Homo sapiens: one gene and its partners. The protein of the gene in region 2 interacts with the protein of the main gene of each other region in a pairwise test. Each region holds a gene or a part of one and is shown on either strand. Other genes may lie near its edges.

Region 1 (4,170 bases), on a different chromosome or scaffold from region 2:
CTGGGTGGCATTTTCCCTTTCCTGTTCTTGTACTGACATTTCTGGGAATATGTGAAACATAAGGCAAGTACTTATACCCCAAAATTATATCAAGAAGATTACTGAATAAAAAAGTGGCTATATAGCACACACATACTAAATGTGAAGCTCACAGCTTTTGCAGCCAGGACTGAAAACCACTGCTCTAGCATGTTGCCTTCTTAAGTGAATGCCCAGGGCTTCTATAGTTGGGCAAATATGCTCCCTGTCTCCTGGCTTAGCTCATTCCAGGGCTATAGAACATCCTTTCCCAAGGGAGTGGATTCACACTGCTTCCATAGTCTGAGATCCTGAAGTGAGCCTTCCCCATCTGCCACAACAGAAAGTAAAAGTAGAACCTGTTCCAACTATTCTCAGTCTGTTCAACAAACAATTATTGAGCACTTGACAATTGTGTATATGGTGCAGTGATAATTGAATGGATGGTCCAGAGGGGGTCAAGACAGAGCAGCTGCCACCTGGAGATGTTCATGATATGGACTTTTCCAAGAGGAAGAGACCAACTGGAAAGATGTACCTGATTCTTAGGCTTCTGTTTGGGTCTTTTTTTTTTTTTTTTTTTTGCCTTTTGAAGGGGTGCAGCATTCCTGGAGGTACTGCAATACCAGGTCAACATGTAGAGTGAACAGAGCAAGCTCTTATTCCATCTCCCTGCTCCCAAAATCCATTTAATATGTTGTCCTCAGATGGAGGACGTATCAGATATTAAGACGATAAGAACAGATACCACACTTGATCTTAGCCAAAAGGCTGAGAAGTGATGCTGCCTATGTCTTGAGTTCATTCTCTCCCCACTGATATTATTTTCTTCCCCTTGGCAGGAAGATGATGTCTGTTAGGAAGCCTCTGAGGTTCCTGTTCCTTTCTGCTGGATTTATGCCGCTGCCAGCATCGGAGCAGTTTCTACCACCCACACATTTCCTTGTTAAATAGCCAGGCCTCTTCCCATGGGGAATGCTTTCATTAAAAGAGGCAGCCACTGCTGCACAGACCTGCAGGCTTCTCAGGGCTAGAGCAGGCGGGGGTGCAGTGGGCAAAGCCAGTGGAGGCACAGGCTGGGTTGTGGCAGTCTCCTGGAGGGCCTGCCCTAGTAATGAGGGCCCAGGCATGCGGCTGACCCTTTGAAGATGTGTCCTGAAGCTCTCTCATGGTGATCAATGACAGGAACCCAGACTCCTGCTTTAGCCAAATGATAAGTTTGGCCTCTTTTATTGGAAACCAAATTACAAATTAATTAGCAGCTTCCTCTGGGGCTGGGTGTGAACATCAACACCACCCAATGATGAATTTCTATCATGAGCCCCCTCACTGCAAGGGCATAAAATGGCCCGGGCGGCATGGGGTCTGTAGACATCCAGGTAGCTGTGGCTGAGGAGAAAGGGCCTCTCCAACATGACATCCTCCTGCTGTGTCACCAACAACTTGCAAGCCTCTCTCAAGAGCTGCCCCCGGCCTGCCTCGGTCTGTTCCAGCGGCGTGAACTGCCGGCCTGAGCTGTGCCTGGGCTATGTCTGCCAGCCCATGGCATGCCTGCCTTCGGTCTGCCTGCCCACCACCTTCCGGCCAGCCAGCTGCCTCTCCAAAACCTATCTATCCAGTTCCTGCCAGGCAGCCAGTGGCATCTCCGGCTCCATGGGCCCCGGCAGCTGGTACAGCGAAGGGGCCTTCAATGGCAATGAGAAGGAAACCATGCAGTTCCTTAACGACCGCCTGGCCAGCTACCTGACGAGGGTGCGGCAGCTGGAGCAGGAGAATGCGGAGCTGGAGAGCAGGATCCAAGAGGCCTCTCACTCCCAGGTGCTCACCATGACTCCTGACTACCAGTCTCATTTCAGGACCATTGAGGAGCTCCAGCAGAAGGTGAGGGCAGCGGTGAGGTGAATAGGCTCTCTGGGAAGGGAACTGGACTAGCTGGCATTCCAGATTGGAATCTCGTTAGCTTATTAAGCTATGTTCAGGACAAAGAGACTTCCCTAGGGCATAGGGTTATTTTATAATTTGAGCACTCAGCCTGAGGCTTTCATGTGGAGAGATCTGGGATCTAGTCTCAGTTCTACCATTGCCTCATTGCATGACTTTGGGGGTCCCATCCCTTCCCCAGGCCTCAGTTTTCTCATCTGTAAAACAGGGATAATAATGGTCGTTATCTAATGGGGTTGTCAAAAGGATTTGATGAGATGATGCAGGTCAAGTGCTTGGAACAGCCCCTGGTCCACGGTAAGTTTTCAGTAAATGTCAAAGACCCTTCTAACTGTCACATGAGTGACTTCAGACATGAGATTCTTCCCTTCCACATTGCTTGGCACATCCAAAATGGGGAATTTGAATTTACGAAGCTTCAGGTTCTTAAAAAATACATCTCAAGTTCTCCAAGGACTAGCAATTCGCTAAATATCTCCCAGAGTTCCAGGGAAGAGGACCTTCTGCAGGGATGGCTGCAGGGCTGCTGGATCCTACCTTTGCTGCTGTCTTCTCTTCATTTGGGTTCTTCTTGCTTCGTCTCATCCTGAACTAACCCTCTCCATGTGCCTTGGCCTACAGATTCTGTGTACCAAGGCAGAGAATGCCAGGATGGTTGTGAACATTGATAATGCCAAACTGGCTGCCGATGACTTCAGGGCCAAGTGAGTTCAGTCGGGGGGCTGGAGCTGGGGAGGACCTGTCCTCATAGGCTCTGGGGCAACTTTCCATTAGTTTCACGGAGGGTTGGAAAGTGCCGGCAGTTTAAGGCCTTCCCTGAGTTCTGCATTCTGTTTCACCCTTGGTTGCTGACCCTGTCCTTGTGCAGGTACGAGGCAGAGCTGGCCATGCGGCAGCTGGTGGAGGCCGACATCAATGGCCTGCGCAGGATCCTGGATGATCTCACTCTGTGCAAGGCTGACCTGGAGGCCCAGGTTGAGTCCCTGAAGGAGGAGCTGATGTGCCTCAAAAAGAACCATGAGGAGGTGAGGCTGGAAGTCCCGCTGAAGTGGCCCCGGGAAGCAGAGGGGGAGGAACGTGGGGTATGGGGTTGGATAGGCGTGGGTTGAAATTCCCAAGCCTGCCACATGTTGTTTTAGTGACTTTGCCCAATTTATGGAATCTTCCTGAGCCTCCTCTTCTGTAAAATGGGGACAACATGATCACGCAGGGTTATTGTGAGGATTTAATGGACAGGATATGGATCATGGAAATCCCCAAGGCATGGGTATGAAACACCTGCCACTTGGTCAACTCTCAGAAGTGTAGCCCCCTTCCCTTCTGCATTTCCTGGGCTAGTGTGACTGCCAAGCACTCACTAGTGGCAACTGCATTTTTTTCTCTCGAGAGCCACACAGCAGAGGTAGAGTGGTGCAGTGGTGCCGGGGTGAGTTATGTTCCAGATCTCACGTTGAATGGCCTGTCCATCTCTGCCTGGCTCAACTCTCAGAAGCAGTCCCATCTCTTCTGAGAGGGAGTACAGCTGCAGTGGTCTCCTCTTTTTGCCCCTATCCTTATTTTGTCCTCCCTTCTGTTTGCATATAAAATGCTCAAGCTGAAGCCCTTTACTTTCTGATTTTTCCTTATCTCCTGAAGTTTCTTGGAGGGGAAGCCCTCTGCTTTGGGCACCTGTGTGCTGCCAAGCCCACCTGAGCCATGGTGTTTTTCCCCCCTCCCTGGTTGACTCTCAACCTCTTGACTTGGGATTTGAATGAACAAGTGCCTCTGAATCTTGGCTGGGTTTCCTCAGGCTTAAGTGTAAAGTAACAATCAGTCACCACGTACTCACCGAGCACCCTCGGGCTCCTGACTCATCTTGCTCAAATCAGAGAACTGGGAACGGCACCAAGAAGCCACTAATGAGAAGTTATCACACATCCTGGCAGACTCAGTGACAACTTTCCCTCTTTGGCAGCCAAGCCTGGGAGGCAGCTGCCCTAACTCGGGCCTTTAACTAGTCAAGCCAGGCTCCTGCTACCCTCCTCCCAGGATGAACACAGGTGGGGAGGGAGACTGGGAATACTAGGGGTACCGGTTTCCCATTTTAGCCCAAATGCATCAAACAAACCAGGGTGCTGCTCTTGGCTTCTGCCAAAGTGATAGGAAGTGTTGTGTTGCAGTGAGGTTCCCATCGCAGGGGTATTCAGCTGGAGTTTGAAGAGCACTGGGATG
Region 2 (3,500 bases):
ACTGCGGTCAGGGCAGGACATGGGGCACAGTGGCATGGTTGGTCCTGGTGTGCAGCTGTTTTTTATGGGGTCTTGCTCTGTTGTCCAGGCTGGATTGCAATGGCGCAATCACGGCTCACTGCAGCCTCAACCTGCCAGGCTCAAGCCATCCTCCCACCTCAGCCTCTCGAGTAGCTGGGACCATAGGTGTACATCACAATGCTTTGTAGAGATGGGGTCTTGCTACATTGCCCAGGCTGGTCTTGAACTCCTAGGCCCAAGTGATCCTCCCACCTCAGCCTCCCAAAGTGCTGGGATTGCATGCATTAGCCCCAGTGCCCAGCCTCCTGCATTATTTTAATGCTTCCATTATGTTGATGTACATAGTAGCTAATTCCCCACCAAGGAGCATTTTGGTTGTTTCTGGTTTTTCCCTCTTACCTAAAAGCTGCAACGAGTGTTTTGCACTTTTGTGTCACTGTGGTCTTTGTTCTTATAAGTGGGATTTTTGCCAAGTTGTATTCCAAAAAGTTGTGCAACCAGGTGTATCCGAGGGCATGTGGTGGTGGCTGGGTCTCCCTTTAGCCAGAGAGAAGCTCCTAGGCCTGTGCAGTGTCTGAACCACCCCTCGTGATTATCCCCAGTCTGTTCCAGAAATAATCCAGGATCTTCCCATCTCTGTCTTGAGAACACTGTGTAGAATCACGAATGTCTATGTAGAAAGGAAAGGGAGGGCAGGCCCCTCTGTAGGCTCTCATTGCAGAAGGACTCTGTCCAGCCCAGCCACGTGCCGCCCTCTGCTTCCTCTAGGAGGCAGACAGGCGGATCCTGCAGGCCCTCCTCGAGAAGGAGGACGAGAGCCAGCGCCTCCACCTGGCCAGGCGGGAGCAGGTCATGGCCGATGTGGCCTGGATGAAGCAGGCCATTGAGGAGCAGCTGCAGCTGGAGCGGGCGCGGGAGGCAGAGCTGCAGATGCTGCTGAGGTGAGTGGCAGCTGCTGACTGGGCTGGATGCTCCTGGCCTCAACTCTGATACCTTGAAATGCCCCATGGGTCACCTGTTACTGAAATATCTATTGGCTGGGCGTGGAGGCTCACACCTGTAATCCTAGCACTTTGAGAGGCCGAGGCAGGTGGATCGCTTGAGCCTAGGAATTTGAGATCAGCCTGGGCAACATGGCAAAACTCCAGGCTCTACCAAAAATACACAAATTGGCCAGGCGTGGTTGTTCATACCTGTAGTTCCAACTACTCGGGAGGCTAAGTGGGAGGATCACTTGAGCCCAGGAGGTTGGGGCTCCGATTAGCCATGACTACACCACTGCACTCCAGCCTGGGTGACAGAACGAGACTCTGTCTCAAAAAAAAAAAAAAAAAAAAAAGAAGAAGAAGAGATAGCTGTGTATGTTGTCCATCATTCCTGAGGAGCACATCTTCATAATGGACCTGGCCTCTGGGGGTGTTTCCCTTGTATTATCTGAGGTGGAAATCATTAAGGTTTAGAGTAACGATGTGTTCATCTGAAATCTTAGAGGTTTAGAAGGAAATTATTTTTTTTTTTTTGAGATAGAGTCTTGCTCTGTCACCCAGGCTGGAGTGCAGTGGCATGATCTCGGCTGACTGCAATCTCTGCCTCCTGGGTTCAAGTAATTCTCTGCCTCAGCCTCCCGAGTAGCTGGGATTACAGGCGCCCGCCACCACACCCGGCTACTTTTTGTATTTTTAGTAGAGATGGGGTTTCACCATCTTGGCCAGGCTGGTCTTGAACTCCTGACCTTGTGATCCGCCAGCGTTGGCCTCCCAAAGTGCTGGGATTACAGGCGTGAGCCACTATGCCCAGCCAGAAGGAAGTTATTATAGAGATGTTGAATGCTGCTTACATCTATAAAACTGAGTTTGGGTCCTAAAGACTAAACTAGTAGATTGAAATCATCAAATAATAAGTAGCATACATTGAGCACTTACTGCATGCTGGACACTGTGCCGGGTGCTTTACAGGCCTCATCTTACTGAGTCCTGACATCCAGCCAAGTGGTGGCTTGTGAGACCCGGAGACTTGAAGAGGTCACTCCGTCCAGGGTGAGCTATCAGTGACACAGGCATGCGGTGGCAGGGTTCAGGCACAGGCAGCGCCCTCCTCTCCATGTTCTGATGGTTTCATTCATCTCTGTGTTAAACAGCCACGGTGTAAGTCATCCCAATTCCTTTTTATAAGGAGATGGGGTATTAAAAGGGTAACTTAAAATACTTCCAACAGGGCCAGGCACGGTGGCTCACGCTTGTAATCCCAGCACTTTGGGAGGCCAAAGCAGGTAGATCACTTGAGATCAGGAGTTCAAGACCAGCCTGACCAACATGGTGAAACCCTGTCTCTACTAAAAATACAGTAATTGGCCAGACATGGTGGCACATGCCTGTAATCCCAGCTACTCAGGAGACTGAGGTACTAGAATCGATTGAACCTGGGAGGTGGAGGTTGCAGTGAGCCGAGATCGCACCACTGCACTCTAGCCTGGGCAACAGAGCGAGACCCATCTCAAAAATAAAAAAAATGAAAAACTTCCAACAGTACTTTCCGTGGATGCTGTCCTTAATTGTAATCTTTTCAAAGTGCATGTGGATGTTTATCTGCAGTGTGGTCCTGCAGAAGCCATGTGCCCTGCAGCCCTGTCTGTTCCGTAGCTCGCTTCCTGCCAGGGCGGGGAGGAGCCTGCTGTCATCCCTTTTGTGTTTGCCCAGGGAGGAGGCCAAGGAGATGTGGGAAAAGAGAGAGGCAGAGTGGGCCCGAGAGCGCAGCGCACGGGACAGACTGATGAGCGAGGTAATCCCAGCTGCGGCGATGTGGACCGGCTGTTGGGTCTTGGGCAGGTGTCTGGAAGTCCATGGTCAGTCACCCTGCCAGATGCTCTGGGAACAGAGTCTTCTCTGGTCATTTTAAGTGGGCTTTAAAAATCATTGAAAAAGTAATATGAGCTTAGTAGAAAAGAATTCAGAAGTACAGGAAGTAGAAATGGAAAAAAGTCCCCCAGAGCCCATCCTGTATGCAGCCGTAGCTGCTGCTTCTGTCTGCTCTTCTGTTTCTATGCCTGACATTTTTTCTACATGTATTTCTTACTGTCTTGTGCTATTTGGCTTCAAGCGTTGTGACATGCTGTTACATCTTTATAAACGGCATGTCAGGGGCTGTATCACGGACTGTCCTCTGTCACCCGCTGCCTTTCCATTCCCTCTTATGGGTGTGCTGTGTTGTTCTAATTGGAAGCCATTCTGAGAAACGCTGCAGAGAGCCTCTTGGTGCCTGAGGCTCTTCCCACACGTTTCCCCCCTCGGGGTAGATGACAGCCGTGACCTGGAGGACATAACTGCTTTCCTGGTCAGTGTGTACACTGTGCGTGGAAGATATACCCCAACCGCAGAGAAATCTGGGAGGAGAAGAGAGAGTGTTACCCATGGGCTGAAAGCTGTTGTAAAGTGGTTTCAAATGAGAAACTCTACGTTGTGTCTGGTAGTATGCTGTATTTT
Region 3 (3,500 bases), on a different chromosome or scaffold from region 2:
AGCAATTAAATTATAACCAAAAACAAGTATGGGATTTATAGTTAAAACTGTTAATAATTGGTTTTTCAAGATATAAAAATAGCATGCCCTCAGCCTGGCATGGTGGCTCACACCTGTAATCCCAGCACTTTGGGGGGCTGAGGTGGGTAGATCACCTGAGGTCAGGAGTTCAAGACCAGCCTGGCCAATGTGGTAAAACCCCATCTCTACTAAAAATACAAAAATTAGCCAGGCATGATGGCACGTGCCTGTAATCCCAGCTACTCGGGAGGCTGAAGCACAAGAATCGCATGAACCTGGGAGGCAGAGGTTGCAGTGAGCCAAGATCGTGCCACTGCACTCCAGCCTGAGCAACAGAGAGAGACTCCATCTCAAAAAATAATAATAATAATAATAATAATATCATATCCTCAAATAAGTTTAAACTGATAAAAACAGATTAAAGCTTTTCTGATATTAATGAATAGTGTAGTTGTCTATTGCTACCTATATTAGTCTGTTTTCACACTGCTGATGAAAACATACCCAAGACTAGGCAATTTGCAAAAGAAAGAGGTTTAATAGACTCACAGTTCCACATGGATCGAGAGGCCTCACAATCATCATGGAAGGTAAAAGGCACATTTCACATGGTGGTGGCAGGAGAGAATGAAAGCCAAGCGAAAGGGTTCTATAAAACCATCAGAACTCACCTGGACTTATTCACTACCAGGAGAACAGTATGGGGGAACTGCCCCCATGATTCAAGTATCTCCCACTGGGTCCCTTCCACCACATGAGGGAATTACGGGAGCTACAATTCAAGATGAGATTTGAGTGGGAATACAGCCAAACCATATCATTCCGCCCCTGGTTCCTCCCAAATCTCATGTCCTAACATTTCAAAACCAATCATGTCTTCCCAACAATCCCCCAAAGTCTTAACTCATTTCAGCATTAACTCAAAAGTCCACAGCCCTAAGTCTCATCCAAGACAAGGCAAGTCTTTTCCACCTGTGAGCCTGCAAAATCAAAAGCAAGTTAGTTCCTAGATACAATGGGGGTACAGGCATTGGGTAAATACAGCCATTCCAAATGGGAGAAATTGGCCAAAATGAAGGGGCCATAGGCCCAATGCAAGTCCAAAATCCAGCAGGACAGTCAAATCTTAAGGCTCCAAAATTATCTCCTTTGACTCCATGTCTCACATGCAGGTCACACTGATGCAAGAGGTGGGTTCCTACATCTTGGGCAGCTCTGCCCCTGTGGCTTTGCAGGGTACAGCCTCCCTCCCAGCTGCTTTCACGTATCAGTGTTGAGTGTCTGAGGCTTTTCCAGGAGCATGGTGCAAGCTGTCAGTGGATCTACCATTCTGGGGTCTGGAGGATGGTGGCCCCCTTCTCACAGTTCCACTAGGCAGTGCTCCAGTAGGGACTTTGTGTGGGGGATCCAATCCCACATTTCCCTTATGCACTGCCCTACCAGAAGTTCTCCATGAGGGCCCCATCCCTGTAGCAAACTTCTGCCTGGATATCCAGGCATTTCCATATATCCTCTTAAATCTAGGCGAAGATTTGCAAACCCCAGTTCTTGACTTCGGTGCACTCACAGGCTCAACATCACATGGAAGCTTCCAAGGCTTCGGGCCTGCGCACTCTGAAGCCATGGCCTGAGCTCTACATTGGCCCCTTTCAGCCAAGGCTGGCGTGTCTGGGACACAGGGTACCAAGTCCTTGGACATAGCATGGGGACCCTAAGCTTGGTCCATGAAACCATTTTTTCCTCCTAGGCCTTTGGGCCTATGATGGGAGGGGCTGCCATGAAGACCTCTGACATACCCTGGGGACATTTTCCCCATTGTCTTGGGGATGAACATTTGGCTCCTTGTTACTTAGGCAAATTTCTGCAGCTGGCTTGAATTTCTCCTCAGAAAATGGGTTTTTCTTTTCAATTGCAGGGTCAGGCTGCAAATTTTCTGAACTTTTATGCTCTGCTTCCCTTATAAAACCGAATGTGTTTCAGGCACATGTATGTTTATATGGTACTATTCACAACAGCAAAGACTTGGAATCAACCCAAATGTCCAACAATGACAGACTGGATTAAGACAATGTGGCACATTTACACCATGGAATACTATGCAGCCATAAAAAAGCATGAGATCATGTCCTTTGCAGGGACATGGATGAAGCTGGAAACCATCATTCTGAGCAAACTATCACAAGGACAGAAAACCAAACACCGCAAGTTCTCACTCATAGGTGGGAACTGAACAATGAGATCACTTGGACACAGGGTAGGCAACATCACACACCAGGGCCTGTTGGGGGATGGGGAGCTGGCGGGGGACAGCATTTGGAGAAACACCCAATGTAAATGATGAGTTGATGGATGCAGCAAACCAACATGGCACATGTATATACCTATGTATCAAACCTGCACTTTGTGTACATGTACCCTAGAACTTAAGGTATTAAAAAAAAAAAACTGAATGTGTTTTAACAGCAGCCATGTCACCTCTTGAAAGCTTTGTTGCTTAAAAATTTCTTCCACTGGCTGGGTGCAGTGGCTTATACCTGTAATCCCTGCACTTTGGGAGGCCGAGGTGGGTGGATCACCTGAGGTCAGGAGTTCCAGACCAGCCTGGCCAACATGATGAAATCCTGTCTCTACTAAAAATACAAAAAATTAGCTGGGCGTGGTAGTGCATGCCTGTAATCCCAGCTACTCAGGAGGCTGAAGCAGGAGAATCACTTGAACCCAGAGGTGGAGGTTGCAGTGAACTGAGATCGTGTCACTGCACCCCAGCCTGGACAATAAAAGCAAAACTCCGTCTCAAAAAAAAAAACAAAAAACTTATTCCATCAGATATCTTAAATCATCTCTCTCAAGTTCAAAGTTCGACAAATCTCTGGGGCAGGAGCAAAATGCCGCCAGTCTCTTTGCTTTTGCTACAGTTCTCAACAAGTTCCTCATTTCTATCTGAGACCACCTCAGCCTAGATTTTATTGTCCATATCACTATCAGCATTTTGGGCAAAGCCATTCAATAAGTCTCCAGGAAGTTCCAAACTTTCCCACATTTTCCTGTCTTCTTCTGAGCCCTCCAAACTATTCCAGCCTCTGCTTGTTACCCAGTTTCAAAGTCACTTCCACATTTTCAGGTATCTTTTCAGCAGCACCCCACTCTACTGTATTAGTCCATTTACTGTGTTAGTCTGTTTACTGTGTTAGTCCGTTTTCACGCTGCTAATAAAGACATACTTGAGACCAGGCAATTTACAAAAGAAAGAGGTTTAATGGGCTCGCAGTTCCACGTGGCTTGGGAGGCCTCACAATCATCGTGAAAGGTGAAAGGCACATCTCACATGGCGGCAGCAAAAAAGAATGAAAGCCAAGCAAAAGGGGTTTCCCCTTATAAAACCATCACATCTCATGGACTTATTCACTACCATGAGAACGGTATGAGAGAAACCACCCATGATTCAATTATCTCCCACTGGATCCCTCCCACAACATGAA
Region 4 (4,154 bases), on a different chromosome or scaffold from region 2:
AGCCACCATGGATACAAAGATACCTCTGAGCACCCTTGCTCCAATTTTCGTTTCTTGGTGAGTCTGCAGTATTATGCTTCATATTCATGCTTCAGTGCTGCCATCTGAACTCTCACTGCTCCAGACTGTTTCCAGCATATTTTTTCTTCTAGATATTTCTACTCTTGCTCATCTTTAGAGAGGCTGTTGCTTTAGTACAAGTTGGCAAATTTTTTAATTTTAGGGCTTTGTGGACACTATAGTCTCTGTCACAACTACACAACTCTGCCACTGTAGCACAAAAGCAGCCATATACAATAGCTAAACAAATGGGCATGGCTGTGTTCCATTAAAACTTTATTTACTGCCGGACGCATTGGCTCACGCCTGTAATCCCAGCACTTTGGGAGGCCGAGGCGGGCGGATCACGAGTTCAGGAGTTCAAGAGCAGCCTGGCCAACATGGTGAAACCCCATTTCTGCTAAAAACACAAAAATTAGCCGGGTGTGGTGGCGGGCACCTGTAATCCCAGCTACTCGGGGGGCTGAGGCAGATAATTGCTTGAACCCGGGAGGTGGAGGTTGCAGTGAGCCGAGATCGTGCCACTGCACTCCAGCCTGGGCGACAGAGTGAGACTCTGTCTCAAAAAAAAAAAAACAGAAAACAAACAAACAAAAACTTTATTTACAAAAATTCAGCAGGGTAAACTTGACGTGTGGGCTGCCATTTGCAGATGCCCTCTTTTAGGTATACTCCCATCCATTCCATTGGTTTCCATTTTACTTTCTCATTTCTCAACCATGAACATGCCATTGTTTTCAGTTGCTCCATGTGTTGGCAAGTTCCCTAAACCCCAACGAATAGTAAGGCTCAGGATCATTTCGGCGAATACAGGTTGAGTTTCTGCTATAAAAACAAATTGAATGCTGAAACATGGATGAATGTGGGAGGAAAGAGCTACTTGGAAGAGTAACTCTCAAAGCTCTCTCTCAGAGCTCTCTCTCTGGGGAGAAAGAACAGTGGCGGAAACTCCTGGGTGAGGAATCCCTGATTCCCAAACAACTCCACCCCATGTCCCTGGCTGTCCTCCCCTCTGAGTAATGCAGACAGCCTTTTGGGGCTGTGATGATTCTATCTCCTATGAAGCCATCTGATGAAACTCTGATTTCACCAACCACTAGCACCCAGGAAGAGCCTGGTGTGACATAAGCTGAATGGAATAATTTTATGGGTTGAGGGGGGACTCTTTAGAAGCATCTAACTAGCATATTTTGGAGAAAAATTAGCTGAAGCATTAGGAAAGGAAACTATGCTGTATGCCAAGCCCCCACCCACAATTAATGGTATAAAAGGACTGCAGAGGAAGGAGAGACTCAAACCTGCCCACATCCACCTCCAGCAGCTTACCTGCTTTTCCATTACCTGTTCCAGCACCATGTCTTACAGTTGTTGCCTGCCCAGCCTGGGCTGCCGCACCAGCTGCTCCTCCCGGCCCTGCGTGCCCCCCAGCTGCCACGGCTACACCCTGCCTGGGGCCTGCAACATCCCCGCCAATGTGAGCAACTGCAACTGGTTCTGTGAGGGCTCCTTCAATGGCAGCGAGAAGGAGACTATGCAGTTCCTGAACGACCGCCTGGCCAGCTACCTGGAGAAGGTGCGTCAGCTGGAGCGGGACAACGCGGAGCTGGAGAAACTCATCCAGGAGCGGTCCCAGCAGCAGGAGCCCTTGCTGTGCCCCAGCTACCAGTCCTACTTCAAGACCATTGAGGAGCTCCAGCAGAAGGTGAGGGGGTTGGCCATATGGGGGGCCAGCAGCAGCTGGCTCTCTTTGAACAGTAAGACATTTTCAAGTTCAAGTGTACCTCATGAGAGAAATTTCTTTTCAGATTCTGTGTGCCAAGGCTGAGAATGCCAGGCTGGTGGTGAACATTGACAATGCCAAGCTGGCCTCTGACGACTTCAGAAGCAAGTATGTTGAACTTCAAGGTCCCTATGGTTCTTTCATGGCCCTAGGGACCTACTATTGCCTGGAAGAGAGGAGAAAGCCATTTCTCTCTATTTCTCCTCCTAGGGCTGGTTATGTAAAATTAGTTTCAAATAGGGAACTAGACTCATGTGCTGCCTGCTCTTTGGTCTATACTGGTTTTTTTTGGAAGTGTTTCTTAAACCACAAAATTCAGAGATTGAAATGAATTGTTCTTTGGGAATTGATTTGGTGGTATATTAGCTAACAAAACCGAGAACACAGTGAGAGACTTCATCTCATGTGTGCCTGTGGGCTCCTCGTGGTGTTAGGTGAGTCAGGGAACCTCTTCAGCCTATCCATGGACAGCTTGACTGAAGCATATGGAAGAGAAGAGGCAGAAAACTGTAAGTTCAAGAAGATTCAGGCCAATTCTACCCAAACAACACATGAGAGGGGAAGGTGGTTTTCTTTCCTGACTTATCCTCCCACTCCGACACGTGCAGGTACCAGACGGAGCAGTCCCTGAGGCTGTTGGTGGAGTCGGACATCAACAGCATACGCAGGATCCTGGATGAGCTGACCCTCTGCAAGTCTGACCTGGAGTCCCAGGTGGAGTCCCTGAGGGAGGAGCTGATCTGCTTGAAGAAGAACCATGAGGAGGTATGAAACAAATTCACAAAAGCAGGCCTCAGAACTAAGCTACTAGCACTGGGAATCAGGAGAGGATTACTGTCTGGATCCCTGGTCTGGGACCCTTCTCTGAGGAACTCAAGATGTTCTCAGAGAGTGACGGTGCTACATCCATATCAAGGAGTGGAGTGAGCTGCTCATTCTTCAGCGGCTGGGTGAGGGTTAGGCAGGTGTTGGAATTACTGAGGAGGGACATCATTCATTGAGCCCTGCTCTCTGCTGATCACTGCTAGGTCCTGAATTTGGTGGTGGAGATGGAGGGACAAAAAAGAAATAAGACATGGCCCTTTTCTTAAAAGAGCTCACAGTCTAGTATAGAAAGACAGTCATATAAACACAGTGATATAAACAAGACAGAGTGAAACAAGTACCATATGAGATGTACAAGCAGTATGCTCTAGAAATAATCCAGGCTGCCCAAGAGGAGATAGGGAACTCTTCTCAGATGCAAAGAGGAGGATTCCAGTACTTGGGTGTTTCAGTCTGAGGGAAGAGGTTGAACAAAGACACAGAAGTGGCAGGGCAGGGTGTATCTGGGTATGGCTGGGCATGCAGTACCTCCAAGGGATGAAAGTGAAGATGTGATGGGAAGCGAGGAAGGACTTGCATATGCCAAGGAGTTTAGACTTAGTCTTGTAGAAGGTGTGAGGTTGTTTCCGTTTCTATGGGACAACAATTGACGTGATCCCTGTTGGAGTTTATTGCTATAAAATGTGTGTGTCACTCTTTGGGAATGATCAGAATCTTCCTTTTAGTGCTTTTTTTTTTTTGACGGAGTCATGCTCTGTCACCAGGCTGGAGTGCAGTGGCGTGATCTAGGCTCACTGTAACATCCGACTCCCTGGTTCAAGTGATTCACTTGCCTCAGCCTCCTGAGTAGCTGGGATTACAGGCACATGCCACCACGCCCAGCTAATTTTTGTATTGTTAGTAGAGATGGGGTTTCACCATGTTGGCTAGGATGGTTTCGATCTCCTGACTTCGTGATCCACCTGCCTCTGCCTCCCAAAGTGCTGGGATTACAGGCTTGAGCCACTGTGCCCGGCCCCTTTTAGTGCTTTCTGGGCAGCATCAAGCTCATTTTCCCAGAGCAGGAAGATGGCACATCTTCCATGGGACAGCAATTGATGTGATCCCTGTTGGAGTTTATTGCTATAAAATGTGTGTGTCACTCTTTGGGAATGATCAGAATATTCCTTTTAGTGCTTTTTGGGCAGTATTGTGCTCATTTCCCTGGAGCAGGAAAATGGCAGATCCATTGCCGTAGGTTCATTGTTTCCCTTTTCTCCAACAGGAGGTTAACACCCTGCGCTCCCAGCTTGGAGACCGCCTCAACGTGGAGGTGGACACTGCCCCCACTGTGGACCTGAACCAGGTCCTGAACGAGACCAGGAGTCAGTATGAGGCTCTGGTGGAAATTAACCGCAGGGAAGTGGAGCAATGGTTCGCCACGCAGGTGGGCATCTAAGCACATGGCCACTCAGGACCCGAGGTGCCCCAGGGCCCTGGAGACAGGGTC

Evidence for each region.
Region 1: the proteins of TCHP (region 2) and KRT32 interact in binary tests that used the Homo sapiens proteins (3 or more experiments, as listed by UniProt).
Region 3: the proteins of TCHP (region 2) and MIPOL1 interact in binary tests that used the Homo sapiens proteins (3 or more experiments, as listed by UniProt).
Region 4: the proteins of TCHP (region 2) and KRT34 interact in binary tests that used the Homo sapiens proteins (3 or more experiments, as listed by UniProt).

The regions. Positions count from the first base shown.
Region 1 is NC_000017.11:41,464,587-41,468,756, reverse strand, and holds the start of KRT32 (keratin, type I cuticular Ha2), read left to right. Parts: upstream 1-1,370; 5' UTR 1,371-1,431; coding exon 1,432-1,899; intron 1,900-2,580; coding exon 2,581-2,663; intron 2,664-2,827; coding exon 2,828-2,984; exon of another isoform or gene 2,985-3,998; intron 3,999-4,170.
Region 2 is NC_000012.12:109,910,274-109,913,773, forward strand, and holds part of TCHP (trichoplein keratin filament-binding protein), read left to right. Parts: intron 1-789; coding exon 790-962; intron 963-2,717; coding exon 2,718-2,799; intron 2,800-3,500. UniProt on the Homo sapiens protein: Tumor suppressor which has the ability to inhibit cell growth and be pro-apoptotic during cell stress. Inhibits cell growth in bladder and prostate cancer cells by a down-regulation of HSPB1 by inhibiting its phosphorylation.
Region 3 is NC_000014.9:37,204,437-37,207,936, reverse strand, and holds part of MIPOL1 (mirror-image polydactyly gene 1 protein), read right to left. Parts: intron 1-3,500.
Region 4 is NC_000017.11:41,379,507-41,383,660, reverse strand, and holds the start of KRT34 (keratin, type I cuticular Ha4), read left to right. Parts: upstream 1-1,354; 5' UTR 1,355-1,410; coding exon of another isoform or gene 1,411-1,414; coding exon 1,415-1,762; intron 1,763-1,865; coding exon 1,866-1,948; intron 1,949-2,448; coding exon 2,449-2,605; intron 2,606-3,929; coding exon 3,930-4,091; intron 4,092-4,154.